Homo sapiens: one gene and its partners. The protein of the gene in region 3 purifies or fractionates together with the protein of the main gene of each other region. This does not show direct contact. Each region holds a gene or a part of one and is shown on either strand. Other genes may lie near its edges. The genes, in order: PAWR, ME1, TOM1, DNPEP, ADAT3, NSUN2 and URGCP.

Region 1 (4,348 bases), on a different chromosome or scaffold from region 3:
ATGCAGAAACCTTTAGGGCAGTGTATTGGTTAGGAATGTATTCAGTTGCAAGGAACGGATAACCCAGCCCATGATGTGTATAATGGATAGAGATTTGTTTCTATTTTGTTTTTCTTATGTAGAAAGTGTAGAGTTAGATAATTTCTAGTGTTGCTTCTGTTTTTTAGCAGCCTTCTCTTGTAAGCTTTTCCAATATGCTGTTACATGTGTAATTCTCTTTTTTTATATATCTGCAATTCCAAATTGTAGCCATTCTTTAAATTACAAGATTTTTTATAGTCTTTTCTAACTCTCCAGGTAAAAATACTCTTCCTTTATATGCTCATAGAATATAAAGCTAGAAACTGGGCCTTTATCACTAAGTTATCTATCTATCTATATATATGTATTATCTTTCCTACTAGATTATAAATTCCATTTCTTTAATGCATCCTTTGTTACCTTCTGCAGAATGCCTTGTTTAAGGTAGACGTAGTTTACTTATTGAATGAATGATAAAGAATGAATAAACCTTTCCTTTAAGAAAACCCTGTCACTGATGTTTGGAGTTTAGGGAAAAGATTTGTTGGCAGTGGTGTGGATATGGAAGTACAAGTTTTAAGCAGATAATTTATAGGAATTAAATGTACATATTGCTGAAAGAAAAATACTTTTATTATGCAAACTAATTTCTGAATGCACAAATATTTCTTTAATACTATCAATATATTTTCACATATTATCGAAACAGTCTATTAATAGTAGAAATAAAATGGAAACTCTTTTTTTCTTTCAGTGCTTAGATGAGTACGAAGATGATGAAGCAGGGCAGAAAGAGCGGAAACGAGAAGATGCAATTACACAACAGAACACTATTCAGAATGAAGCTGTAAACTTACTAGATCCAGGCAGTTCCTATCTGCTACAGGTGAGTATTTAAAAATACCAGGAAGTCACTATCTATTTTAATGGCAATTTTTCAATTATGCCTCTTGAGTTGTATGTAGTAATATATCTCCCATTGCCTCCTTTCCTCCTACTTATGCCTTCCTTACCATAAGTGGGTTCTGACATCACATGTTGGGCTCACCGTAAGCATGAACACTCTCTTCACCCTTTTCCGGCTTGTGCATCCTTTGATAGGCTGTTCTGTAGGGCCTCTGTTTGCTCCTGCTGAGACTCGGAGAACTCATGTCGGATTGCTCCTCCATGGGGACTCTTCCTCAACTTGATTAGGTTTTGACAACTCCAGGCCAGACTGCCACTCCATGTGAACATTCACTTCATCCTGCCTGCGCTCTGGCACAGAATACCCCATGCCAGGCTGCCTCTTGGAGGGTAGACATTTTTTACCCTGCTAGAGCTCTATCACCCTTTTCTGAGCCACCCTCCTGTAAAGGTAAACTTCACATTCTACTTGGGACTCTGGCTGCCCCTTTATGGGACTCCCTTTCTGACCTTGCCTCACAAATGAGGCCTTACCTTCCCTGCTTTGTAGAAATCTTCTTCATTCTGCTCAGGCTCTGATTTCTTAGGTCAGGCTGAGTGAGCTGTGCTATGTGAGCAGTCTCCTTGGTTTGCTTGGACTTGAATTCTCTATGCCAAGCAGCTCTTCTTTATGACAGGTTCTGATACCCTGATCTGAGCCACTGTGTTTTCTCACGTTGCTCTGCCCTGCCTAATGGCTTTAGGACTTAATTATTCAGGAAAGGAAGGGGAAGGATGAGTTTTTCCTTTTAAAATATTTGTTAATTTGATAAAGCTCTTATTTTTCATTTTCTTATTTTATCAGTTATATATTAGAGAAATTTTATTCTGAAGTCATCTTCAACAATATATCATACTAAATTATACATGGCAACATAGATATTTTAAGTTAGTCCTGAGGGTCAGTTAGCATGTTATGCCATAATTTTACTGAGGGCTGTGGCTTTGTTGCTAGATTATTTGAATAACATCAGTATTACTTTGCTGTATTCATCTGACTTGTATTTGTCTGATCTTATTTCACCTATGCTGTTATACTTGTTTATACGTTAGAAGTTCTGATCTGCCACTGTACCTGTAAAGACTGTTTTCATGGGGATTTCCTTATTGATCTTTATAAGCTTGAATAAAGCAGAGCGTTTTATTTAAACTTACACAAAACAGTTTGTGCTTTGCCAACATTTTCTCAGCTCTACATAGATCTTTCCCCTTCCCTTTAGTAATAGAAACCATCCCATTGCAAGGAAGATTGTTTCAGAAAGAGTATATTTGAAATCAGTTGTATAACAGACTTAAGGATTTGGGGGAGATCTAATTACGTAGTCTTTGAAACTTTTAAGACCAGTACCAGTCTTAACAGTTGTACTTTTTACAAGCCGTTTCAATGATACTAGTATAGCAGTACCCCCATATCAAAGGGAGTTATGTTCCAAGACCTCCAATGGATGCCTGAAATCATAGATAGTACTGAACGCTATATATACTATGCACATATTTGTTTTTCCTTCCTTACAATTTCATGGATAGAAGATATGTTCTTATCATAAAGCTTAGCAACTTCAGGATATGATTTTTCTTTCTTTCGTTATTAAGCTGAGAATTTTCACCTTTTTACTTAAAGCAAGCACTTTACAGCTTCTCTTTGGCATATCAGAATTGCCAGCATCACTACTCTTGTACTTTGGGGCAATTATCAAGTAAAAGAAAAGTTAATTGAACACAATCACTGGGATACCACAACAGTCTGATAACCAAGGTGGCTCCCGAGTGACTAATAGGTAGGGAGCATAGACACTGTGGTTACATTTTACAAAGGGATGATTCAGGCCCTGGGCGAGATGGAGCAGGACAGCACCAAGTTTCATCATGCTAGTCAGGACAACTCACAACTTAAAGTTTATAAATTATGTCTCAAGTTTTCTATTTAATATTTTAATTTATTAATTAAAATACTAAAATTTTATCAATTAAAATTATTAAATAACAAATATTAAAAATTATTAATCTAGCTTTATTAATACCCATGGGTTGACCATGGGTAACTGAAACTGTAGAAAGTGAAAGCTTGGATAAGGGAAAAAGGACTACTGTATTTCTTCATTTTTTTTTTCCCTATTTAGTATGGAGTAGTAATTATTAAAGTGCCAAATAATTATATAGTTGTTTCTTTGCCTGGAAATTGTTGTGGCTACAGAAATATAGTTAAGACATCTAAGGTGACGTTTATATTTGTGTGGAATTTTGTTCTACCATGTAAGAATGTCAAGCATTTTCCTCGTTAAAATTATCAGGGACTTATTTCAGTGAACATAATGTCCTCTGCCGTCATCCATTTTGTCGCAGTGATCTCACTTATATGTGGAATCCAAAAAAGTCAAACTCATAGAAGTAGAGAGTAGAATGGTGATTACCAGAGGCTAAGGTAGATGGAGAAAGGAGAAACATTGGCCAATGGGTGCAAAGTTACAGTTAGATAGGAGGAATAATTTCTGTTTTATTGCACAGTAAGGTGATTATAGTTCATAATAATGTATATTTCAAAATAGCTAAGAGTATTTTAAATGTTCTTACCAGAAAGAAGTGATAAGGGCCTGGTGCAGTGGCTCATGCCTGTAATCCCAGCACTCTGGGAGGCCGAAGTGGGTGGACCACTTGATGCCAGAAGTTCAAGACTAGCCTGGCCAACATGACAAAACCCCATCTCTTCTAAAAATACAACAATTAGCTGAGCATGGTGGTGTTCACCTGTAATCCCAGCTACTCAGGAGGCTGAGGCACAAAAATTACTTGAACCTTGGAGGCGGATGTTGCAGTCAGCTGAGATCACACCACTGCATTCCAGCCTGGGTGACAGCGAGACTGTGTCTCAAAAAAAGAAACAAAAAAAAAAAGAAGTGATGAGTATTTGAGGTAATTCTGTATAGGTTGTTCTTTGCATTGCTATAAAGAGACACCTGAGATTGGATAATTTATAAGAAAAATAGGTTAAATTGTCTCACACTTCTACAGGCTACACAAGCATGGCATCAACATGTGCTCAGCTTCTTATGAGGCCCTCAGGGAGCTACTCATGGAGGAAAGCAAAGCGGAAGCAGGCACATCACATGATAGGAGCAGGAGCGAGAGAGAGAGCGGGGGCAGGTCCCATACTCTTAACCAGATCTCATTGGTGCTAAACCATTCATGAGAAATCCACTCCCATGATCCAGTCACCTCCCAACAGGCCCCGCCTTCAACACTGGAGATTACATTTCAACATGAGATTTGGAGGGGACATCCAAAATATATCAGACATATATGCTAATTACTCTAATTTGATCCTTCCATAATATATACATGTATTGAAATAAAAATATCACTTTGTGCCTTATACATATGTCTA
Region 2 (4,878 bases), on a different chromosome or scaffold from region 3:
GAGGCACAAGAGTCACTTGAACCCAGGAGGTAGAGTTTGCAGTGAACCTAGATCACACCACTGCACTCCAGCCTGGGCAACAGAACAAGGCTCTGTCTCAAAAAAAAAAAAAGGAAAATAAAAAGACAAGTTAGTAAATACAAAATTATATAGTACAACTGAATACATAAAAACAGAGGTGTTAAATAATAAGACTAACATAACTAAGAAATGCTTCCCTAGAAAGATCATTATTAAATCAACTAAGACATTTTCATAGTAGAAATTACACACAAAAAGGAAAGAATTAAGAGATTCAGCAAATATATTTTAAGTGGAAGCCTACATTGGGGAACGAATAAGATAAATTTGGAGAAGACTGTAAACCCAATTGACAGACTGATTTTACATTAAACATAATAGGAAATAATAACATACTATAAATGCTTGGATAATAGAAAAGTGAAGAAAATGTTAATTAATGAAGGTGTCTCTTTCATATATATATGTAGAATGAACTATATCAATGGAAATAAAACCAGCAAAACTGTTGTTGCAGCTACCCAAAGGTAAATGATGAAGTTCTGTGTTAGTGTGGTTGAAGAAGACATGTGACAGGCTGGGTTGTTGAGGGAAGTAAAATCTACTCTTGTCTCTTTGGAGCCAAGGTTATTACAAAATAATAAGAATAAAAATAAGCCAAAACATTCCTGAGCTACTAGCAAAATTAAAGGCCTAGAGGTCTTGAATGTATGACAGATGAAGAAAGTCCCATAGCTGTAGTTTCAATGGTACATAGGAAACTCTGTTACTCCCATAAGGTACCAGATAACCATCCTAGAACTGAGTAAAAGATTATTCCATCGATTGCCTCCAAGTTGGTACACTGGATTGTGGATCCAATTTGACATAATGCAGATAAAAAGTTCAAGTATTACAAATTTGAAAATGTGCTTTTAACATATTAATGTTACATCTTATCTTTGATAGAAGATCTTTGTGATACTATTATTCTGAAGTAGGAATTAATCCTTAATTCCTAGTAACCTTGTGAACAGGAGTCACAAGGATTGTTATATCATAAATTCTTGGCTGGGCGCGGTGGCTCATGCCTGTAATCCCAGCACTTTGGGAGGCTGAGGCGGGTGGATCACGAAGCCAGGAGATCGAGACAATCCTGACTAACACGGTGAAACCCAGTCTGTACTAAAAGTACAAAAAATTTGCCGGGCATGGTGGCGGGCGCTTGTAGTCTCAGCTACTCGGGAGGCTGAGGCAGGAGAATGGCGTGAACCCAGGAGGTGGAGCTTGCAGTGAGCGGAGATCGCGCCACTGCACTCCAACCTGGGCGACAGAGCGCGACTCCGTCTCAAATAATAATAATAATAATAATAAATTCTTGATGTAAGCATAGTAAAGGCAATAATTACTCTTGCTCAGGGATTGCTCATGCCATCTACATACTCTTAATAGACACTCTTGCCCCCAACTTGAGGAAAATCAAACAGGTTATACAACTCATGTGGTCCTTCTTAAGTGTCAACCCACAACTTGGTCATAAATTACAGTAGGCAGGTGACACATACAAGTCACAAATAGTTTTGTCACATCAAATTTTACTTTTGTTCTACTGAAAATAGGTGGCAAACCTGCAGAATAATAAAAGAAAAGAAAAAACAATCAAACTAGCAATTAAATTTATTTTAAAGAAAGAAATAAGTTGGAATTATTTACAATTTAATAATGCTACATGACGGCAGATAGCACACAGTCATAGATTTGTAAAAGGTGCCTGTCACCACACACACAAAAAAAATCACTCACACTGACTATAACTTGTTAAATAAATCATGTCTTTAAGTCATTAATATGATCAACAAATCATCAGGAACACGACAAGGAAAAAGCTGAGCTTCTGTTCTTAATGTGAAATGCAGTCCACCAAAGAGACAACCAAAATAACTAAACAAACCTCTGTGCTGACTGATGGCATTTTCAGACTCCTGAATAAATAGGAAATGTCCAAAGCGCACGCACACACACACACAAAAGGAACAATCCCGAGACAAACCTGGCTGTAAAATAAGTGTGGAAGCAAAATGATAAATTCGGAGGTATTTTTTATTTGAGAGACATCCCGAGTGCTTATATTGCATCACCAGTGAAGGAAAATGAAATGTTACCAGGATCCGAAAAGGAGTCTCTGAACAGGGTGTACACTGAATTCCCCTTTAATAAAAAGAGAGCAGCTCTAAACAAAATTTTTTTTTAACTTCCAGAAAGCCAAATTAAAAACAAAACAAAACAAAACAAAACAAAAGAAAGAAAGAAAAGAAATGGCTTTACCCACAGTCCCATGTCTGGGACAGAGTTCTTCTACCAAGCCATGCAAAGTGTCCAAGACAGAGGCCACCCACCACGCATTCCCAGACTCTTAACCGTGTCACTCCAGAAACCGAGAGGACTTGGATTTCCAGATTGCTAACGTGATCTGAAGGCACTCAGTACACGTTTCTGTCTGGGCAGGACCAGTTGAGCCACTTCTCGCCTTATCAACTTCCAATAATTGCCACACTGTGTGTGCAACCAGTAAGTGAGTGGCACATGGAGTCTGACCTGGCACTCCATTCACACACTTTGTCTGATACTACTTTCATTGTCTGGGCTCTTGTTTTTGGAGAAGAGCTGCCGAAAAGTATCACCTTTTCCTCTATCACTAACCTTTACCTTTACCTCTATCCCTAACATGGGATGCCGAGGTGCAGAGGCACCAGCACTGCCCTGCCATCACTCTAGTGGATACGGACCCGATTAGGCGTCCTTCTTCCTTCTGCCCACACCAAGGCCCCCCAGGCCGCGGCCGCTCACCGGGAACCTTCCCAGGGGAGCGGCGGAGGGGCGAGGCCATGGTGCGGGGACCTGCAAGAGGGCCCTGACCCTGATAGAGAGGGGCCGATGGGCGGCCAGGTGGGCCTGCGGGTTTACCTTGTTGAGGTGAGGGTTCCGTGTCAGCAGGTAGCCGCGCTGATGGGTGTGGCGGCGACGGGGGGCTTCGGGCTCCATGGCTGGCGCCGGGTTCGGCGGCGGGGTCAGGCCGGGGCGGGCCGCACGCGCGGTGCAGGCGGCGGATGCTGCTGGGGTGACGGTGCTGACTGCAGCTGTGGCGGCGGCGGCCGCACTGGGAAAGGCCCAGCGGCTGGGGGCGGGCGTGGGTGGCGAGAGGGGGTGGACGCGTCGGGAGGGGCCCGAGCGAAGCCGGTGTCCCCAGCAGGGCAGCCTGCGAGAAGCGCTGAGTCATGGCAGGAGATCATCCGAGCCGGCGTGTGAGGAGGAGGAGGAAGAGCGAGTCCTGGCAGCGCTGCTGGTGGCGGAGCGGGGGTGGCGGCCGGAGCCCTTGGCTCCATAGGGCCTCTGCCCACCATGGGCTTATGATCACCGCTGTGGTCGCCTCTCTCCATGTGGGCATGCCTAAACGCAGTGCACTGGGTGGCTCTGCTGACCCCAGAGACCCAGGGCGGGGGCAGGGAGCGGGGAGCGTCAGGCCAGGATCCCCCTGCCCGGGAAGGCTGGAGAAAGTGCGAGAAGATGCCAGAAGGTGCGAACCTGAGCGGTTCAGGCAGAGCCGGCGGTCGCTCAGACACCTAGGGGGATTACAGGACGGAAGGACTCGTGAGGGGTCCCCAGAACTGTTGACAGAACACCTCGACAGGCTGAGGAGAATCAGACTCGTCTCTCCTGTCTTGTTAGCGTCTTGGAAGCCCTCTTTCTACAGATCCACAACCTTCGCCGTGCCATCCAGGATGCCGGCCATGCCCGGGGCCCTGAGGCCGGAGGGAACCAACCTTGACCCAGAATGCCGAGGCCCAAGGGAACTGGGAGGAAGCCCAGAGAGGAGAGCTCAGGCGCCACACCTGTCAGTTTCTACAGATTTTCCACCGGAATTGTATTTGAATGTCAATAAGATAAGAGTCAAGGTGTTAGGGTGCAAAGGCCCAATGAACAGTCCTGTTTATCTTGTATATTATTTCTCTGGGAGTTCTAGAAACCTGATGTTCAAGAACCACTGCTCTCTCTGAATAATGATGAGTAAGCAGTCTTTCAGGCCTTCCTCCCAACCTCAGGTGATCCGCCCGCCTCCGCCTTCCAAAGTGCTGGGATTATAGGTGTGAGCCACCGCGCCGGGCCATTTTTTTATTGTTTTATTGATATTTATGCTTGGAGGTTCATGGACTGGAGGAATAGTCAGATCATAGCCAAAAGGAGTGCCTGTCTGATAAAAATAAATTAATAGCAACAGACACTAAAGCCTTCTGTGCCCCAGTTTCCTTTTCAGTTAAATAGGATTGCTAGTTTCTGTCCCATTTGTCTCTGCATACTGATATTACAAAGGATAGTGTTTGAGATTATTTGCTGATTTTATATCTCCATATACTAGACACACATCCAATCACAGTGTTTTCATTTCTAGTTATGTTAACTTTGCCTTATCAGAAAGATTTCTTACAGTAATTGTATTTTGTCCGTATTTACATTTAGAAGCTTCTTTGACCTCGCCTGAATTATCTAGAATTCGTTGTTTTTATAGAGAATATTTTCTAGGCATCACAAAGTTCTTTTTGAAAAAAATCCTTGAAGTTAAATGACACCTTTCATTGTTAATTCTATACTCCATAAATACTCAATCCTACAACATCTAAGAAAAAGGTGTACTTTACACAACTCACTCTCCTGAATTAACTGAGACACATTACAGTTAGGGTGTTTTATGTGAGAGGAAACAGTTTAACAGCTGGCATGGGAGCCAATTCAAGCTGCTTAAGAAGAAACAAAAATGTTAGTACAACAGACCCTTATTATAATAAAGTACTTATTACATGAATTTAGATATACTACCTACCT
Region 3 (4,348 bases):
TCCACTCTGATAATGATCTCCAGAGCCTTCACCCTATTCTGACCGACCCCTCTGGATATAGGCCAGCCATGCTGTCCATCTGGAAATGCAGTGTGGGAACCCACACGCCACATTTACCTGTCCTTGCTAGATACTGTATTTCTATTACTGTACTCAGTGACTATGTGAAATTTTTATTAACCCTACCATGTGGAGCTGACTCCAATAGTTGTGGAAGATGCTCCCCCTGGGCTCACAGCATTTAGCTTTTCTAGACCCCCTTGCAGCCAGAAGTAGCCCTGGGACTTCTGGCCACAGAGATGGAAGCGGGTGTCTCTTGGGCGGCTCCTGGGGAAGGTTTTGCTTTCTTGGTAACAGAGACACAGACAGTTGGTACTTTCACCTGTGCTTCCTACCGTGAGAATGCAAGCACGAGGATGAAACCAATGTGGTCAAGAAGGTTAGGCAGAAATACAGAAGAAGCCACTACTGAACGAATTCATTCTAGATGGACACAGATGTTGTCACTCAAAGGGAAACCCAGCAGGTCTCTCAGTTCTCTCTCTTTTTTTTTTTTTTTTTGAGATGGAGTCTCACTCTGTTGCCCAGGCTGGAGTGCTGTGGCACGATCTTGGCTCACTGCAACTTCCGCCTCACCGGTTCAAGCGATTCTCCTGTCTCAGCCTCCAGGGTAGCTGGGATTACAGGCGCCCACCACCACATCCAGCTAATGTTTGTATTTTTAGTAAAGATGGGGTTTTACCATGTTGGCCAGGCTGGTCTTGAACTCCTGACCTCAGGCGATCTGCCTGTCTTGGCCTCCCAAAGTGCTGGGATTACAGGTGTGAGCCACTGCGCCTGGCCTCTTTCAGTTCTAAGGGGGAATCGGTGAGATGGAAAAGTTGGGAGGATGGGATGCAGACACAGACAAATCCTGCCCAGACTCCAGCACCTACCAGCTGTGTGAGCCTGGGTAACTCCTCGGCCTCTCTGTGCCTCAGTTCCTCCTCTACAGAATAAAGATGACCAAAGCACTCACCTTCCAGGGATGTGTGAGGAGGAGTGTATACATTTCAAGCACCAAAATAAATGCTATCCTCTACAAACATATCAACCACAACATGATTGAGAATTTCAAGCACCCCATAAGAGATTTTTAAATCACAAATATGCAGAAGCTATTTTTTTTTCAGCCAGAAACTTGTCTTGAAAACTATTTTCCAAAGGAATAACTCTTTCCAGACCCAGCGTGGAAAGTTCCATCCATCTCCTAATTTGCTGAGCCACCCTTCCTCAAAACCCTGGCTGCCTCTCCCCTGTATTTTTTTTAACCATAAACCACAAGAGAAACCCTAAAATACCTTACAGAGGGTATTGCTTCCGCAACCCACAATGTTAAAGTCGATGTAACTAACTATAGTACCTAACAAAAGGAAATGTCAGTGAGATAAAGAAAGGTTTTCTAAAACTCCCCAGGTAAGAAGTGAGGCTGTGAAGGCAGAGGCTTGAAGTGGCTGGCTGAGGTACAGATGGCATTTGTTTTCACTCCCCACTTGGGAGTGTAAAAGGTATTGCTGACAATCTGGATGGTCAGGGGTGGAGTGGGCTTTGTATTAGTCAGGGATCTCTAGAGAAAAGGAACTAGGCTGGCTGTGGTAGCTCATGCCCGTAATCCTAGCACTTTGAGAGGCCAAGGCGGGAGGATCACGAGGTCAGGAGTTCAAGACCAGCCTGGCCAACATGGTGAAACTCTGCCTCTACAAAAAATATAAAAATTAGCCAGGTGTGGTGGCACGCGCCTGTAGTCCCAGCTACTCAGGAGGCTGAGGCAGGAGAATTGCTTAAACCTGGGAGGTGGAGGTTACAGTGAGCCAAGACTGCCCCACTGCACTCCAGCCTGGGAAACAGAGTGAGACTCCGTCTCAAAAAAAAAAGAAAAAAAAAAAAAAAGAGAAAAGGAACTAGCAGAAAGAAAGAGAGAGAGAGAGAGACAGACACACACACACACACAGGAGAAAGAGCGAGCGCTTAAGGAATTGGCTTATGCAGGTGTGAAGGCTTAGCAAGTTGAAAATCTGTAGGGTGAGCTGGCAGGCTGGAGATCCAGGAAACAGATGCTGTCCAAGTGCAAGGACAAGGGGAGCCTGCTGGCCAAGTTCCCTCTTGTTCTGGGGAGGTCAGTCTTTTTCCTATTCAGGCCTTCAACTGATTGGACGAGGCCCACCCATGTTATTGAGGGCAATACGCTTTACGCGGGTCTGGTGATTTAAATGTTAATCTCATCTAAGGCATACGTTCACAGAAACATCTAAAATAATGTTTGACCAACTATCTTTCTCCCCTGGCCTAGCCAAGTTGACACATAAAGTTAACCACTACAGGGTTTATACTGCACCAACACAAACAAGTTCAAACAGTAGACCCCTCTGTCTGTCCCTAAATTCTCTGTCTGTCTCAGCCCCTGTGGTCTGGCTGGTTCTTCTCTCCCCCTCCCTTCTCCCCTGGCTCCGTCCTTCCCTTCTGGGAAGACTCCAGGCTCCGTCCTTCCCTTCTCTACCTTCCCCAGCAGGAGCGAGGCCCAGTTCCCCTCCTCAGGGCTTGCACAGTGGTTCTCCACCGCACTTTGCAGTGCTCTATCAACTTCTAAGTTTCCCGTGTCCCTTGAGGAGGAGACCTGGGGGACACAGCCGGGAAGGGGCGGAGCTGGCACCTGAACCCAGCTCTTCTGATGCGGAGACTAAGCTGTGACCCCATTTCAGGCTGCTTACGTCCCAGTGATCAAAATGAGCTACCTGGGATCATGCCAGGTGGGCTCATGGGCAAACTTAAAGACATTTTTAGAGGGACATTAAATTTTTCCTCTCCTGCATTATTTACTTTAATGCAGGATAGGAAAAAAACACGAACATCAAAGCCATGATTTCATGGATATAATTATATAGGATGAGGTCAAATTTTAACAGATAAGCTAATGAAAAGAAAACCCTACGAAAATAATAATGAAGGTGGCATGGGGGTAGACACAAATCACAAATGAGCTACATGAAAGACAGAAGTTTGGAGGGCACTGGCCTAGATCAAGATCTCCTTAGTAAGGCAGTAAAGAGTTAAACTGTCCTGAATCCCCCTGCTTCTCATGGGGTGATGGCCTCAAGCTAATTAGGAGACACTGAGGGTTTGGGTTTTTTTTTTTCTAAAACCAGAAGAGTGGAAGTCTGGGACTATACTCTTATTTCTTTGAGCTCACTAAGGGAATAAAACCTATTCACCAGTTCTATCCATAGGGGAAGGCAAAGGCCTTAATTTCCAAGTAAGAATCTGCTCCTCCCCACAGCCTGAAACCTGACCTGTCTGTGAATGTGGTGGCCACCCAGCCAGTGACCGCTCATTTGCCAGGGACACAAAGACCATCACAAAGGCTGCACTGGAGTCAGAATCTTGGGCTGGCACTTAGCTTGGCTACTAACTTAGACTGGGTCCCAGGAATGATAACACCAGTGAAAAATCACAACAGCTAATAATTACAGAGACTTCCTGTCTGGCAGGAAGTGCTTTATAGCACAACAACACGACAGCCCTATCTGATAGGTGCTATTATTATCCTCATTGTACAGACGAGGACATTGAAGAACAGAGAGGTTAAGTAACTTGCTCCTGGTAACAAAGCTGTTGAGGACTGAACCAGGACTCAGACCATTCAGTCTGACTCAAGCTCACCCTGGGCTCTACTAATATGTGTACAGCTGATACAAAGCCCTTTCTAGACAAAGCTCTGTCATCCTCAAGACAGAAACTTGGGGATCTAATGTGGGTCCTGTACTTACGGATCAGGAAACAGAAGCTTCAAGATATTAGGGCTCACATGGGCACACTGTGGGGATAAGCACCCTCAAGCATCCCCAGTGTGGGTGCTCTGGTACCCCACTTTGAGGAACAGTGTGCTCCATCATTCTGCCTCTGGCCAGCTGCTCCGATTCAGAAGTCAGCAAACTATGAACCCATATGCCAAATTCAGTCTGTTTTGTATGGTACTCGAGCTACAGATGGTCTTTATATTTTTAAATAGTTGGGAAAAAAAAAAGCTGAAGAAGAATAATATTTCATGATATGTGAAAATTACGTGAAATTCAAATTTCATTGCCCATAAATATTTTTATTTATGCACAGTCATTCTCATTCATTTACCTATGGCCTATGTAGCTGCTTTTGTGCTATAATGGCAGAACTGGGTAGTTGCAGCAGAGACCATCTGGTTCACGAAGCCACAAGTATTTACTATCTGGCCCTTTATAGAAAAAGCTCACTGACCCTGGTCTAGTCTGCTAACCAACACAGGAATCCTCTTTATAGTCGCCCTCCCCACCCCGGC
Region 4 (4,033 bases), on a different chromosome or scaffold from region 3:
CAGCATGACAACCAGCCCCCATTACTCAGGCCAGTCACTTTGTGATGGCGATGTTGTCCCAGCAACCAATCCAGGCACTAGAGGGGAAGCAGCCCAGCTGCCAGAGAGGGTCTGGGGTGGGTGTTACCTTGAAGAGGGTGAGGGTCTGGAGGACTCCTGTGGTGCAGGCCATCTCCCGGATAGAGTGCATGGCCAGTTGGGGGCTGCCTAAATCCAGCACCCGCAGCCCCAGCCGAGAAGCCAAGATAGGTCCAATGGTGGTTCCACAGGGGGTGTCATTCCGGACCATGAGATCCTAGGGAGAGCAGGAGACCCATGAGCAACATGCAGTGTGTGCTTATCAGAGCCAAGGAGGACGCCATCTTAGAATTGCAGGGTGGGAAGGGGCCTGGGAGATGGTCCATTCGGAGCATAAAATCAAAGCCAATGCTAAATGGCAGACCCCAAAGGACAATATATTCTGAATTGGTCCCATTCTATCTGCATTGCCACCACCCTAGTTCCAATCCATTCTCCACACAGCAGGAAGGGGGATTTTTAAAAGTATCCATCCTTGTCACCCTCTTGCTTAATATCCACACTCACAGAAAAAAATCACTCAGTGGTATCAGTGTCTTTAAAAATATTGCTACTGACATTTTGAAATGATTTTCTTTATATTATGGTAAAAAAATAAGAAAATGAAAATATGATGCTAGATATCAAGGTTTTCAGTGTAAGAGAAAACAGAATTACAAAATCAAATAGGTAGTAACTATTTAACTAAATAAGAATAATTTTATGAATAAGAATTACAGTATTAACTCATGATTTTTATTTAAAAATTTTTATTTTATTTTATTTATTTATTTTGAGATGGAGTCTCCCTGCGATGCCCAGGCTGGAGTGCAGTGGCGCAATCTCAGCTCGCTGCAACCTCTGCCTCCTGGGTTCAAGCGATTCTCCTGTCTCAGCCTCCCAAGTAGCTGGGATTACAGGCACGCACCACCACGTTCAGCTAATTATTGTATTTTCAGTAGAGACGAGATTTTGCCATATTGGCCAGGCTGTTCTCGAACTTCTGACTTCAAGTGATCCACTACCTCTCAAAGTGCTGGGATTACAGGCCTGAGCTACCACACCTGGCTTCATGATTTTTAAAATATGTACTTTTTTCTTGCTATGTCCATGGAAATGGACCCAAAGCACCGTCCCCTCCCCCAAGAACAATGAACACTTGCAGTGCCAGGCTATGGTCTCTAATACCACTGCTTGCCAAAAACTACCAAGTCTGGGGGGCGAAATGAACAAGACATGTCTACAATTTTTGTTGTGCCAAAAAGCAAGGAGACTTCCAAGAGTCAAAGGGCACAGGAGTTATGCTGAAGGGGCTCCCACTGGTCAAAGCCATGGCAATTCACAAATCAAATATAATAATTATAGAGGACACTGAATAAATGAAATTCCATGATTCTAAGATAGTCAGAAAGGGAAAAGCAGGCCAGGTGTGCTGGCTCACGCCTGTAATCCCAGCACTTTGGGAGGCCAAGGTGTGCAGATCACATGATTCCAGGAGTTCAAGACCAGCCTGGCCAACATGGTGAAACCCTGTATCTATTAAAAATACAAGAAACAGCCGGGCATGGTGGTGCATGCCTGTAATCCCAGCTACTCAGGTGGCTGAGGTATGAGACTCTCTTGCACCTGTGGGGAGGAGGTTGCAGTGAGCTGAGATTGCGACACTACACTCCAGCCTGGGCAACAGAGCGAGACCCTGTCTAAAAAAAAAAAAAGAAAAAGAAAAAAAAAGGAAAAGGAAAAATCTTTCTTTGTCACTATTTGAGACGACATTTCACCTTGAAAAGTGGATAACAGAAAGAATTAGCATTTATCCTGCTTTCCAATCAATAGGAATGATATTCCATGATAACCAAAGAACCCTAGTTGATTGGAGGGAAGAAGTTCCACTTCACAGAAGAATGGAAGACTGAAAGAATTCAGGGGAAGCGGGCATTTTTCGGTAAATTCTAATGAAATTACTGATTTAGACAAGGATTATTGTAAGTGTTAAAACCATTAGGTATCTGGTTAATAGGGAACTCATCACTTGTATGGGTCACTGTCAGGTCAATAGGGGAAAAGCACTATATAATGAAAGGATAAGAGGCCATTCCTGGTCCAGTGGTCAATCTTTGCAAGGCTAAGGGTGGCCCACCCAGATATCATGTGTGTGATGCCATATGAATACACCAGCCATGTCTTCTAGCCCAAAATGTTTAACTTGAGGCTAGGCACGGTGGCTCACACCTGTAATCCCAGCACTTTGGGAGGCTGAGGTGGGCGGACCACTTGAGGTCAGGAGTTCAAGACCAGTCTGGCCAATATGGTGAAACCCTGTCTCTACTAAAAATACAAAAATTAGCTGGGCATCGTGGTGCACACTTGTAATCCCAGCTACTTTGGAGGCTGAGACAGAAGGATCACTTGAACCAGGGAGGCGGAGGTTGCAATGAGCCGAGATCACGCCATTAGACTCCAGCCTGGGCGACAGAGTGAAACTCTCACTCTGTCAAAAAAAAAAAAAAAAAAAAAAAAAAAAGTTTAACTTGAATCCATCAAGTCTTTAGAAATTCCAGTTGATAGGAAATACGGGGCTTACAGACAAGCTAAATGACACCATGGGGCAGCAAGGAGACATATCCAGAAGTTTCTTGAATAAGCCAATGCTATTTAAAAAGGGGTGGGGGGAACTGTGCTACACTGGAAGACATTTAAGCAACATATCAGCCAAATATAACGCATTGTCCTGAGTTGGATACTAGGGTGGGCCAAATACCTGTAAAAAAAATATTTTGAGGATAACTGGGGAAAACGGAAAGTGATCTGTGCATTAGATGAGGTACAAGTTTACTGAAACAACAATTTCCTGAAATGGGGTTGGGAATGGTGGCTCATGCCTGTAATCCTAGCACTTTGGGAGGCCAAGGTGGGAGGACTGCTTGAAGCCAGGAGTTCAAGACCAGCCTGGGCAACATAGCAAGAACCCCATTTTTACTAAAAATAGAAAATTAGCCAGCATGGTGGCATGCATCTGTAGTCCCAGCTACTTGGGAGACTGAGGCAGGAAGATCTTCTGAGCTCAGGAGTTTGAGGGTGCAGTGAGCTATGATCATGCCACTGCACTCCAGCCTGGGAGACAAAGCAAGACCCTGTTTCTAATTTTAAAAAAACATTAAAAAAAAAAACCAAACTCAAATAGAAAGGTGAAGATGACTGAGTGAAAAGAGGCAACAAAAATATATCCAATATAATATCATTTTAAAAAAGTGTATATGAAGTTTATGCATAGAAAAAAATCTGGAAGACTATACCAAATTTCTGCAGATTAGTGTTTTATTTTCTCATCTCTATCTGTATTTTCTAATTTTCTAAAATACATGTGTCCTACTTCTGCTGTAAATTATTAAAGAAAAATCTCCCAATGTCTTCTCACTGCCTTAGAATAAAATTGAAATGTCCTTCCATGGCCTAGGTATTCCTGTATCATCACTGAGCTGGGCCTCTCCCCTAACCCTCTCCTGCTCTCATCCTGGCTCTACCATCCTGCCTTTCTCTCCTCCTAAAAGACGAGCTCATTCCTGGCCCCCCTTGGGGCCTTTCTACTTGTGCCCTCTGGCTGGGACCCTCCCATAGCTGCCTATTTCTCAGTGGTTAGGTCTCAGCTCAAATATCACGTCCTCAGAGAAGGCTTCCTGGGGGCAGAACAATTCAGCTTTCCGAAAGGAAGAGTGAACACTGTGCAGCAGAAAGAGCCCTGGGCTGGGAGTCAGGATACCACGGTTCTACACCTGCTATGATTGTCACTGGACCGCCCATGCCTGAGTCCCTGATATAGAGAGGTAGACAGATAAATATAGAAATAGACAGTCATGCACTACATGGTGACATTTCAGTCAAAGATAGACTACATATGACAGTGGTCCCGTAAGATTATAATGGAGCTGAAAAATTCCTGTCGCCTAGTGACATCACAGCTGTTGCGATGTTGTGGCAT
Region 5 (3,622 bases), on a different chromosome or scaffold from region 3:
GCAGTTGAGGCCGCCCTGGCCTGGGACAGTCAATCAGCCTGAACACTGTGCCTGTTCCGGGATTTTGACCTGCCCTCCAAGGGCGCGGCGGGCCCAGCCTGCAGTGTCCCGGCAGCTGCCTCCTCTCTGGGTCGTTTGTTTTTCATCAGACAGAGGTTGTACTCTTGGAGGGACAAGCGAGGCTGTGTTTGTCTTTTACCCTGGAGACAGTGGAGTGTTTGTGGCCTAGCAGGGCCGTGCGGGCCTCTCGGTCCTGGTCGCGCGTGGTGTGCGTTTTGGGAGGGCCCAGCGAGTCGGCTGCTATGGGCCCCACCTGGCACGGGGCCTCGGGCAGCGGCAGCACCTGGCGCTGCCTCCGCGCTTCCTGCTCCCGGCTCCCACTGCATCTCCGGTTCTGTGCTTTGTTGAACGCGTGAGCTTCGGGCAGCGCTGGGGCCGCTTCAGCGTGACCTCCAAGGCCACTGGCCTGGAGTTCCACTGGCTGCTGGTCCCCCATCTGTGGGGCGCCCCGGCGGCTGAGGCGTGGACCAGGCAGTGCATGTCGAGGAGTAGCACCCACAGCTGCGCGGCTGCGAAATGATCCAGAGACACATCCCTGTCTGCGGGAGGAGCCGTCCATACCAGCGGGGATGTGTAGTCCAGGCTGGCAGTTCAGGATCACCCGGCTGGAGTCATTTTAAGATCATCTGCGGCTTAGCCCCAGCACCATCTGAGGCAGTACTGTCTGCTAGAAATAACTGTGAGCACACAGGTAGTAAGGTTTTTAGGATTTTATTATTATTTATTTATTTGAAAAAAGGAACAGGGTCTCTCTATCTTGCCCACGTTGGTCTCAAACTCCTGTGCTTAAGTGATCCTCTCGCCTTGGTCTCCTGAGTAGCTGGGACTACATGTGCACACCACCGTGCCCAACTAATTTATACTTTTAAGCAATGTGGGCTGGGCACGGTGGCTCACACCTGTAATCCCAGCACTTTGGGAGGCTGAGGCAGGTGGATCACCTGAGGTCAGGAGTTCCAAGACCAGCCTGGCCAACATGGTGGAACCCCGTCTCTACTGAAAATACAAAAATTAGCCGGGCGTGGTGGCATGTGCCTGTATTCCCAGCTACTAGGGGGGCTGAGGCAGGAGAATCGCTTGAACCTGGGAAGTGGAGGTTGCAGTGAGCTGAGATCATGCCACTGCACTCCAGCCTGGGCAACAGAGTGAGACTCTGTCTGAAAAAAAAAAAAATGTGGGCTGGGCATGGTGGCTTACGCCTGTAATCCAACCTCAGGCCTGCGGTGCGAGTCTGTGGGGGCAGATGCAGGTGGGGGAAGGCTGGCCAGCTGAGACTGTGGTTTGGGGGTGTTCAGGTGGGGTGGATGCCAGAGATGTGGGAGCCAGAGGCGCTGTCCCCCAGGGCCCTGTGAGCAGTCCCTGCAGGCTGGCTGTCCCCACGCCTGCCTCTCTGCTGTGCTGTCTGCCCGCCTAGGGCAGGCTCCCTTCTAATGGGCGGATCCCGAGAGCTGGGGGCCCCACCAGCCCTTCCTCTCCAGTGGAGTGGCCCTACTGCCTCATGTCCACCTGTGCCAGCAGCAGGGATGGTAATGGCTCTACTATCTCCTGTCCTCACCTGTGCCAGCAGCAGGGATGGTAACGGCTTTACTGCCTCCCGTCCTCACCTGTGCCAGTGGCTGGGATGTCTTCACCTGTGCCAGCAGCAGGGATGTCCTCACCTGTGCCAGCGGCAGGGATGGTAACAGTGCTGGTGATGTCAGGCCGGGAGGTTCTCACCCGAGAGCCGCCTTGGCACACTGCCCGGCAGTCAGGGATGTTAGCAGGAGCCCCGGGAGTGATCCCAGCTCTTCCCGCAGCCCCACTCCAGCCAGGGCCTCCTCTGTGACTGAGTAAGCAGGGACACCCCAGTGGCTGCCTGCTCCACCCGACAGCCAGGGCCCACCACAGCTGCAGGAATGTGGTCAAGGGATGGGAAGTCGGGCCCACCAGGGGAGGGGCTGCGCTCCGGGGCTTACGTTTCGTGGCTTGTCTTCTGAGGTCTCTCTTTTCCTAGCCCTTGGCCGACTAGGGGGCGAGTGTTTACAGAAACCACTGGAGGTGGGTGTTCCGTGTCAGTGCCAGGCTGTGTGCTGTTCTGGGAGGGGGCCCCGTGTCCCCCACACTTGGCATGCTTGCTTTCTGTCACTGCATAGCAGACTCCGTGCATCTGTGGGCTTAATACAACACCCGCCAGCTCCCGGTTCTGTGGGTCGGGGCCTGAATGTGACATGGCTGGCTCCTCTCTGCGGGGTCTCACCGGGCTGGAACCCAGGTGTCAGCCAGGGCTGTGTTGTCATCTGGAGGCTCAACGGGGGTGGCATCTGCTTGCAACTCACGCAGGCGTTGGCGGAATTCAGCAGCTTGCGGCCGGGGGACCAAGGGTCCTGCTCAGTTCCTGGCCACATGGCCCTTCTGTCTGGAAGCCAGGCGCCGCCTGTCCCCGCTTCTGCTTCCAGGCTCTGGCTTCTGGAGATGCAGAGATCACATCAGTGGTTGCCTGGGTTGCTGTGTGTGTTGTAGGGTGGTGAGACAAGTTTTCTCTTAGGGGTGATGGAATGTTCTGGAATTTTATAGTGGTGATGGTTGCACAACTCCAAGTGTCCTAAGAGCCACTGAATAGGACACTTGATAGTTTTTGGTTTTTGAGGTGTCTTTTTTTTTTTTTTTTTTTTGAGACAGAGTCTCGCTCTGTCACCAGGCTGGAGTGCAGTGGCACGATCTCGGCTCACTGCAACCTCTGCCTCCCAGGTTCAAGCAATTCTCTTGCCTCAGCTTCCTGAGTAGCTGGGATTACAGGTGCGTGGCACCATGCCCAGCTAATTTTTGTATTTTTAGTAGAGATGGGGTTTCACCATGTTGGTCAGGCTGGTCTCGATCTCGTGGCCTCATGATCTGCCCGCCTCAGCCTCCCAAAGTGCTGGGATTACAGGCTTAAGCCACCACGCCTGGCTTTTTTGTTGTTTTTTGACAGTCTCGCGCTGTTACCAGGCTGGAGTGCAGTGGCGCGATCTCGGCTCAATGTAACCTGCGCCTCCCAGGTTCAACCTTCTGGGTTCTCCTGCAAGCCTCAGCCTCCCTAGTAGCTGGGACTACAGGTGCGTGCCACCAGGCCTGGCCAATTCTTTGTATTTTTAGTAGAGACGGGGTTTCACCGTGTTAGCCAGGATGGTCTTGATCTCCTGACCTTGTGATCCGCCTGCCTCGGCCTCCCAAAGTGCTAGGATTACAGGCGTGAGCCACCGTGCCCGGGTTTTCATTTTTTTTTTGAGATGGCATCTTGCTCTGTCAGCCAGGCTGGGGTACAGTGGCACGATTGTAGCTCACTGCAGCCTTGAATTTCCGGCCTCAAGTGCTCCTCCTGTTTCAGCTTCTCGAGTAGCTGAAACCACCGGTGTGTGCCACCACGCCCAGCTAATTTTTTGATATTTAGTAGAAATGGGGTGTTGTTATGTTGCCTAGGCTGGTCTTAAACTCCTGGGCTCAAGTGATCCCCCCACCTCGGCCTCCCATAGTGCTGGGATTACAGGCGTGAGCCGCTGGTACCTAGCCATGAATTGTGCTTTTGAAAATGACCTGTCTTGGC
Region 6 (4,348 bases), on a different chromosome or scaffold from region 3:
TTATGTGATGTCCCTTGCAGGTATTTATCTTATTGGCCAAAAAGCCCAAATCCACTAAAGAAATCAAGTCAAATAGAGACTAAAATGAAGTTGTGCATGAATATGACACAATTGTACATAAGTCTTGGGGTGCGGAGAAAGATAGCGTGAGCCTAAACCAAAAGATGGACACGTAGATACGTCTTAATGAGAAGCAGCACAGCAGATGCTGGATAAAGAACAGAAAGGGGTGGTTGCAATAGCCTGCAGAAAGATAAAGAGAAAACAAAACAAAACAGAGAAAATACGTAAGAGGAAAATAGAATCGTAGACTCTTATTGTGGTGTGTTTTAGGATGTTATTGCTTGGAACAATTTGTGCACCCCAACTATTTTGTATTAGTTCTTCCAGTGAGTACAGTATATAAAAAACTTTGTCATAAAATAATACGTAATCACATTGGATTTTATGTTATTTAGTTGAATGAAAGAAATTTCGGAGTTCAAGCCCTTAAGAAATTCATTTTGCTTGTGTTTTTATACCTTTCTTGAGATAATACATCAACATTTTAGATATTTAGAGTTTAGATATAAAATAATACTCATGGTATAACTGAGTAACAAGTTTTTTTAAAAGGAAAGAAACAAAACTAAAGACATCATCTGTTCCGTTCCCATAGGAGGTGCACGGATGATGATCCCAGGTGATAATGACTTCTGAATGACATAAGTTTGTCAAGACCAGAATTCAAAAGCTGCCACAAAACTTGTTAGCACAGAATGCAAGCTTTAGATACGATACCACATTATGGAAGAATGCCATTTTGTTTCAGTAAGTGGCAGAGTTACTGCTCATGGCAAAACTCAGTATGAAACTTGCAGCTGGTGGCTCTGAATATAGCTGAGTGTTAAAATAATCTGGAAAAAGCCCTCTTTAAAGTAAAATTTAAAATACATCATGAACTAAAGTTTTTTTTTCCTCTAGGTTGCAATTTTTCAGTATTCCTTGGGGTCTCATGTTTTCCTACCCCTGTTTTTTGATCAGAAAGATAACTCGTTCCTTGTATCATATTCTGAGATCTGAGAACGCAGTGACCTTATGAGCAAGAGGTTGCAAGCTGGGGAAATTTCTGAAATTGTGGTGGGATTTCTACCATGCAAACAACTAGTGTACAGCCAGGAATGCCATTGCAAAGTGGGGATTACATCTCATGGGATAATTCCATCCTGCAGACCTAGTCCCTCGTGTACACGCGGCTAGACCATCAAGGAAAATCAGCATTTACAGAGAAAGCCAACAAAAACAGGCGTTACCTTCTGGGAAAACAGGGCAGATAAAATTAGACACAGAAAGTAACAAATCCAGTCTTTACTATAAAATATACATGGAAAGAGCTTCCATTAACAAAAACATGAAAATAACTTCCATTAAATAAAAGTAGAAAGTCAGAAATTTAACGGTGATTGTAAGAAAAATTTAGCTATTAGTAAGAAAAATTTAGCTATTATATTAGCTTAATTGAAATTACTATGGAAAATTTATTAGTCATTATTCATATAATTCTGATTAAAATGCCATTGTTGATTAACTGAGTTTTTCAATAGTATTTTAGGTTCTGAAAAACATGAAAATAACTTCCATTAAATAAAAGTAGAAAGTCAGAAATGTTTACCTGTGATTGTAGGAAAAATTTAGCTAATATATTAGCTTAACTGTGGAAAATTTCTTATTAGTCATTATTCATGTAATTCTGATTAAAGTGTCATTGTTGATTAACTGAGATTTTCAATAGTATTTTAGGTTCTGTGTCCTAGGTCTGCAAATTAGTCTTGCTAGTGTTTTTTCCAAATGGAAGCACATTAATATCTCCTTAGTGAATGGAGTTTACTGTTCAAATCCATTATTTTCTGCTTGAAAATTGAAGTATAATTTAAAACTATAATACATTAGAAAATCCCTAAAACAAAAGCTGAAAGCAGATTGCAGTTGGTGAAAATGGAGATTGTTTCCTAACTGATATTTGTAACACTTGTTTTGTAACTTAGCTTGTATGTGACATATCTGTTAAAGTGCAGTCATCCACCTGTAGGGAGCTTTGCACTCATAAATATCTTTTTTCCAGTGGAGACGGCACTATGAGAAAAAACATTGATGTTTGGAAAAAGTGGACCACCTTAAATAGCTTGCAGCTACATGGGTAAGTAAAACTTCATCACTGCTAACACTGTGTGACAAGTAGATCAGCAGAGATTTATTGTTATGCAAGTGAGCATCCGATCTTTAATTAGAGAGCTGTAAGCATCAGAGGATGGTCAATGGCCACCTTCAACTGTTTTATCAGAAGTTATTTGAAAACCTTTCAAGAGCAATAACTGCAAATTGTATACATTTCAGATAACACGTTTATTAAAAATGCCTTCTATAAAAATTTCTTGCAACACTTCAGATATGTATTTTTCCATGAAATGACCGTTTACCTCTTGATGTATGCATTACTAATCTTTTCTCTCTGTTTTTGTTCTTTTGTATCATCGTTTTGCTAAGAGACATTTTGATCTCTTAGAAATATTTTTCGGTTGGCTTTTTATGATGGGGAACTATTCATTAAAGAACAATTGGAAAATTCTTAAAGAGAAATCTCATAACACGATGATCACGTCTGTTAATGTTTGGTGTGTTGTATTGTTTTTCTGTTTACAGGGATTTTTTAAGTACTTTTTCCAAATACTTTTGATCATGCTGTCTGTAGAGCAGTGTATTCTTTTTTTCATTTGACATGACAAATGCCATGGTCTTGCATGCAGGACTGTACTGTGCCTGAGCCACAGAATACTAATTAGCATCCACCACAACCAACTATAGCAGGAGGCCTCGTCTCCATAAAATACTGTCTACTGTTTTGTGACACAGAGACAAGAGTTAGGACTGGAATGTATGATACCAATTTTTCATAGAAAAACCACATATTTAGGAAGTATGGAGGTTTTTTAAATAGTGAAATTTCATCTAATACATTGAATTCTGTTGTTACTGAACTTTATACTCTGCTGGTTGACATATTGGGAAAGGTTAACAGAGCAGTAAGAATATTTATATAATACATTTTTTTTATTAACATGAAACACTTTATATAAGTTTACTCTAACTTCATTTAGATCCCTGGAAGGTTTTTTTTAAGTATAATTGTGTTATAAAAGCTTGTAATGAATATGTGACATAAGGAGGTGCTTCTAATATGTGCACTTCATGGATACATTTGGCCTTGCAGTCATCTGATATCTCCCCTTAGCTTACAGCTGCGGATTGCAACACGCGGGGCTGAACAGCTGGCTGAAGGTGGAAGGATGGTGTATTCCACGTGTTCACTAAACCCTATTGAGGATGAAGCAGTCATAGCATCTTTACTGGAAAAAAGTGAAGGTAAGCACGCTTGATGGATCTTTTATTAACAGCATAGGGGGCTTTTCATATGTGTATGGTACAATACACATAACGTGAGGTTTACCATCTTAATCATTTTTGAGCCTGCAGTTCAGTCCCGTTAGGTATATTCCCATTGTTAATCACCACCACCATCCATCTCCAGAAATCTTCACCTTGCAAAACTGAAACTCTGAACTCCTTTAAACAGTAGCTCCCATCTCTCTCTTCCCTGCCCCTCACACCACCGTTCTATTTTTTGTCTGTATGACTTTGACTACTCTAGACCTCACAGAAGCGGAATCATACTGTATTTGTCTTTTCGTGACTGGCTTATTTAACTTACTGCAGCGTCCTTGAGGCTCACTTGTGTTGTTGTCTGTGTCAAAATTGCATTGCTTATTAAGGCTGAACACTATTCTGTTGTTTATATAAACCGCATTTTGTTTACCCATCCATCTGTTGATGGACATCTGGGTTTCTTCCACTTTTTGGCTGTTGTGAGCCATGCTGCTGTGAGCATGGTATACAAATACCTCTCCAAGATCCTGGTTACGATTCTTTGGATATACACTCAGAAGTTGAATGGCTGGATCATATGATCATATAGTAATTCTGTGTTTAATTTTGGGGGGACCCCACCATGCTTTTTTTCACAGTGGCTGCGTCATTTTGTATTTCTACCCCCAGTGCACAAGGGTTCCAATTTCTCTACACATTCAGGGACACTTATTATCTGGGGCTCTTTGTTGTTAGTAGCCATCCTAATGGGTGTGAGGTCACCTCATACAGTTTTATACTGAGGAACTGACAGATAGTACAGAATATTCTGAAACAGTAGTGTATTTCTACAGTGTATTGATATAAAATATTTCTCCTTTTATGTTTTGCCAGAATGTTAACTTTTCCCATCATATTTTCCTTAGAGCCAATAATGAGAAATTTCAAA
Region 7 (4,348 bases), on a different chromosome or scaffold from region 3:
GGAGAGGGGAGGATAGGGAGAGGTTGGTTAAGATACAAAATTACACCAGGTGCGGTGGCTCACGTGGTCAGGAGCTTGAGACCAGCCTGACCAACGTGGTGAAACCCTGTCTCTGCTAAAAATACAAAAATTAGCTGGGCGTGGTGGCACACGCCTGTAATCCCAGCTACTTAGGAGGCTGAGGTAGGAGAATTGCTTGACTCGGGAGGCGGAGATTGCAGTGAGCCAAGATTGCGCCACGACAATCCAGCCTGGGCGACAGAGAGAGACTCTGTCTCAAAAAAAAAAAAAAAAAAGATACAAAATTACAGTTAGGTAGGAGAATGGGATCTGGTGCTCTGTAATTCTGTAGGGTGAATATGGTTAACTACAATTTATTACATACTTAGTGTCAAAGAACTAGAAGATAAAAAAGTTAGTACTGTGTAAGTTTCCCCATACAATGGAAAATAGAGCTTTAAAACACAGCCTTAATTCTCCAACAGCTTACATTACCATTAAGTTGGAGAGAGAGGGGAACACTCACTGCACAAACAGTAAACAAACAAAAAACACTACAAACACACATATACTAACCTATAAAATGAGGCTGATCATCCCTGACACACATGCCTCAGATGTGCTACAAGGATCCAAAGGGACTTACATACATCTTAAGCAAAGTTCTCTTGGATTTATCTACATATTTATTGTGGACTTATTATTATTTATTATTTATTGTAGATTTATCCACATATTTATTGTTCTCTTGGATTTATCCACATATTTATTGCTAGGAACCTTTCTAGGAATTTAGGATACATTAATGAGGACACAAAGGTTCTGCTCTTGGTTTACAGTTCAACAAGGCAAGGGGATATTGGTAATCAACAATATCCCCTATATTTAAGAAGTGTAGGACTTGTAGCCCCAGCTACTGGGGAGGCTGAGGTGGGAGGATCACTTGAGCACAGGAGGTTGAGGCTGCAGTGAGCCGTGATCCTGTCACTGAACTCCAACCTGGGCAACAGAATGAGACTCTGTCTCAAAATAAATAAATAAATAAATAAATAAAAATTTAAAAGGCTATGCTAGAAGATGTTAAGTGCTACAGAGAAAACAAGGCACAGGCCAAGGTCAGGTGTGCTGAGAATGGTGGTGGGGAGCGCAGAGCAGGTTGGCTGGAGAAAGGGCCGTGTTAGTACTGGTTTGGAAGGAGGTGAAGGCAGGAGCTATATGACTACCAGGGGAAGACTGCCGCAGGCATAGCCGGGGCAAAGGCCCTAACGTACCCAGGGACCAACAGGGAGGCCCGAGTGGCTTGAGCAAGAGAGTGATCAGTGAGTAGGAGAAGGCAGCAGGAGAAGCTAGAGACGACTGAACTTTACAGGCCACAAAAGACTAAGGCTTTGGGGAGGAAGAGGAAGAGAAAAAAAATAAAAATAAAAAAGATTTTTTAAAAAAAGGTTCTGGCTGTTCTTATTCTAGAGGATGGGGTAGCCATGAAAGGGCCCTGGGTGCAGGGTGACAGGCCTGTCTATGTTACCGGCTGCCAGGCTGAGAATAGACAAGGGATCACAAACGCTCCATTATCTAGCCTTATATTCAGGAAAACAACAACAAAGGCTCAGACCTGGGCAATAGTACCAGCAGCAATGGCATGTGGCTGGACTCTCAAAAGCATCTGTGAAGGACTGCAACAGACTGCACAAAGTGTCTACAGACACAAGCCAAAATAAGTTCAAGTTTTCCAGGTTCAATCAGTTGCTCCTGTCTCAGATAGGGAGGTCTGTGGGTAAAGCAAGACTTGAGGGAATCGTGAGCAAATTGGCACTGACAGACTGGCCCGAGACCCCTACCCTTGGATATGCTAAGCCAGCACGTGAGCTGGAAGGGGTTTGGAGAGCTAATAAAGGCAATCCTTCAACGCGTATAGGAGAGACCACTGTCGGCAACTTCCCTAAAGATACATGCTCTACAACCTCCACCTGACACCACAGTGTACTCACAACAAAGACAGAATCAACTTGCATTTTCTCCATAATGCAAAGAAATGATGGTGCAGGTAGACCTGGAAAACCCAAGAGATCAACCTGAAAACTATCATAAACAATGAGAGAATTCAGTAAGCCGGGGACATACAAAGTTAAAATCAGTAACTGCCTTCCTATTATACAAATAGGTTAGAAACAATGGAAGGAGAGAGCTCCGATTTGTAGTAGCAACAAGAAAAATAATATGTTACAAATGTGCAACACCTATTTGAGAAGAATTTTAAAATACTGAATCTGATTAAGACTTGAAGAACTGAAAAGGGCTGGGCACAGTGGCTCATGCCAATAATCCCAGGACTTTGGGAGGCCAAGGTGAGAGTATCACTTGAGGTCAGGAGTTCCAAGCCAGAAGTTCAAGACCAGCCTGAGCAACACAGTGAAACCCCACTCTACAGAAAATTTAAAAATTAACTGGGTCCAGGAGCATGTGCCTTAAGTCCAGTTATTCAGGAGGCTGAGGTGGATCGCTTGAGCCCAGGAGTTTGAGGCTGCAGTACACAGCAGCCTGGGTGACAGAGCAAGAAGACCCTGTCTCAAAAATAAATAAATAAATAAATAAATAAATAAATAAATAAATAAATTTATTTTAATTTAAAAGAAATCTATTTCTGGATTTTCAGAGAGGAAAGAGTTAAAAAAAAAAAAGGCTGGGTGTGGTGGCTCATGCCTGTAATCCCAGCTCTTGGGAGGCCAAGGCAGGCAGATTACCTGAAGTCAGGAGTTCGAGACTAGCCTGGCCAACATGGTGAAACTGTTTCCACTAAAAGTACGAAAATTAGCCAGGCGTGGTGGCGCATGCCTGTAATCCCAGCTACTCGGGAGGCTGAGGCAGGACAATCGCTTGATCCCGGGAGGCGGAGGTTGCAGTGAGCCAAGACTACACCACTGCACTCCAGCCTGGGCAACAGAGTGAGGCTCCATCTCAAAAAGTGTATATATATATTTATATAAAAATTTTTATATAAATATATATTTATAATATATGCCTTATTATAATACAAATATAAATATTTATATTTATATATATAATAAAAAATGTTTAAAGGAGTATTCTATCTTAGGCAGAAAGGCTTAATTTTTTTTTTTTTTTTTAAGAGATGAGATCTCACTATGTTGCCCAGGCCAGTCTCAAATCCTGGGATCATGTGATCCATCTGCCTCAGCCCCCCAAAATGCCAGGATTATAAGCATGAGCTACCATGCCTGGCCTTTAATATAATTTTAAAAGTCAATTCTCTCTAAATTAACCTATAAGTAAATTGAGGTTCAAAACCAGTTGATTCTGTGAAAAAATATTTATGAAATAACAATCAGGAAAATTTTGAAAAAGAACAGTGAAGGACAAAACTTTCCAGAAAATAGAACATAATAATTAAATAGTCTAAAATAATTTAAGGTTGCTCATGAATATACAGAGAAATCAGTAAAAGGAGATCCCAGAAATAGGTCCAAATGCAGTCAAAAATTTCATCACTGATCTAGGTCGCTTTGAGTATCTGGAACTTATTCAATCACAAAAACCTGGAAAAAAAATTAAGGTAGGTCCCTACCACTTCATTCACCCAAATGAATACCAACTGGATCTAAGATTAAGTTTTTAGTGCCCTAAAAGAAAGTATTAGAGACCCTAAAAAGTCACAATAGGCTAAGTGTGGTGGCTCACGCCTATAATCTCAGCACTTTGGGAGGCTGAGGTGGGAGGCTCTCTGGAGCCCAAGAGTTCAAGAACAACCTGGGCAACATAGTAAGACCCTGTCTCTACAAAAAAAATTTCTTAAAATCCACAATAGCCAGGTGTGGTGGCATGCGCCTGTAGTCCCAGCTACTCAGGAGGCTGAGGCAGGAGGAATACCTGAGCACAGCAGATTGAGGCTGCAGCGAGCCATGTTGTTGCCATTGCACTCCAGCCTGGGAGACTCAGCAAAACTCTGTCTCAAAAAGAAAGAAAGAAAAAAAAAAGTCAGCCGGGCGCGGTGGCTCATGCCTGTAATTCCAGCACCTTGGGGAGGCCAAGGCAGGCGGATCGCTTAAGGTCAGCGGTTCGAGACCAACCTGGGCAACATTGTGAAACCCCATCTCTACTAAAAATACAAAAATTAGCCAGGCATGGTGGTGCACGCCTGTAATCCCAGCTACTCAGGAGGCTGAGGCAGGAGAATCGCTTGAACCCAGGAGGTGGAGGTTGAAGTGAGCTGAGATCACACCACTGCACTCCAGCCTGGGCGACAGAGTGAGACCCTGCCTCAAAAAAAACCAAAACAAAAAAAAAAAAAAAAAGAAAAAGAAAAAAAGTCACAATTCAGCAAATTTAAAAC

What was found.
Region 1: the proteins of TOM1 (region 3) and PAWR fractionate together in Homo sapiens (co-fractionation; one large-scale study listed by BioGRID). This does not show direct contact.
Region 2: the proteins of TOM1 (region 3) and ME1 fractionate together in Homo sapiens (co-fractionation; one large-scale study listed by BioGRID). This does not show direct contact.
Region 4: the proteins of TOM1 (region 3) and DNPEP purify together in Homo sapiens (affinity purification with mass spectrometry; one large-scale study listed by BioGRID and IntAct). This does not show direct contact.
Region 5: the proteins of TOM1 (region 3) and ADAT3 purify together in Homo sapiens (affinity purification with mass spectrometry; one large-scale study listed by BioGRID and IntAct). This does not show direct contact.
Region 6: the proteins of TOM1 (region 3) and NSUN2 fractionate together in Homo sapiens (co-fractionation; one large-scale study listed by BioGRID). This does not show direct contact.
Region 7: the proteins of TOM1 (region 3) and URGCP purify together in Homo sapiens (co-immunoprecipitation; one large-scale study listed by IntAct). This does not show direct contact.

The regions. Positions count from the first base shown.
Region 1 is NC_000012.12:79,617,635-79,621,982, reverse strand, and holds part of PAWR (PRKC apoptosis WT1 regulator protein), read left to right. Parts: intron 1-775; coding exon 776-907; intron 908-4,348. UniProt on the Homo sapiens protein: Pro-apoptotic protein capable of selectively inducing apoptosis in cancer cells, sensitizing the cells to diverse apoptotic stimuli and causing regression of tumors in animal models.
Region 2 is NC_000006.12:83,427,913-83,432,790, forward strand, and holds the start of ME1 (NADP-dependent malic enzyme), read right to left. Parts: upstream 3,140-4,878; 5' UTR 3,043-3,139; coding exon 2,965-3,042; intron 1-2,964. UniProt on the Homo sapiens protein: Catalyzes the oxidative decarboxylation of (S)-malate in the presence of NADP(+) and divalent metal ions, and decarboxylation of oxaloacetate.
Region 3 is NC_000022.11:35,305,857-35,310,204, reverse strand, and holds part of TOM1 (target of Myb1 membrane trafficking protein), read right to left. Parts: intron 1-4,348.
Region 4 is NC_000002.12:219,374,728-219,378,760, forward strand, and holds part of DNPEP (aspartyl aminopeptidase), read right to left. Parts: intron 296-4,033; coding exon 128-295; intron 1-127.
Region 5 is NC_000019.10:1,907,885-1,911,506, forward strand, and holds part of ADAT3 (probable inactive tRNA-specific adenosine deaminase-like protein 3), read left to right. Parts: intron 1-3,622.
Region 6 is NC_000005.10:6,615,778-6,620,125, reverse strand, and holds part of NSUN2 (RNA cytosine C(5)-methyltransferase NSUN2), read left to right. Parts: coding exon 1-20; intron 21-2,101; coding exon 2,102-2,176; intron 2,177-3,268; coding exon 3,269-3,399; intron 3,400-4,348. UniProt on the Homo sapiens protein: RNA cytosine C(5)-methyltransferase that methylates cytosine to 5-methylcytosine (m5C) in various RNAs, such as tRNAs, mRNAs and some long non-coding RNAs (lncRNAs).
Region 7 is NC_000007.14:43,896,177-43,900,524, forward strand, and holds part of URGCP (up-regulator of cell proliferation), read right to left. Parts: intron 1-4,348. UniProt on the Homo sapiens protein: May be involved in cell cycle progression through the regulation of cyclin D1 expression. May participate in the development of hepatocellular carcinoma (HCC) by promoting hepatocellular growth and survival.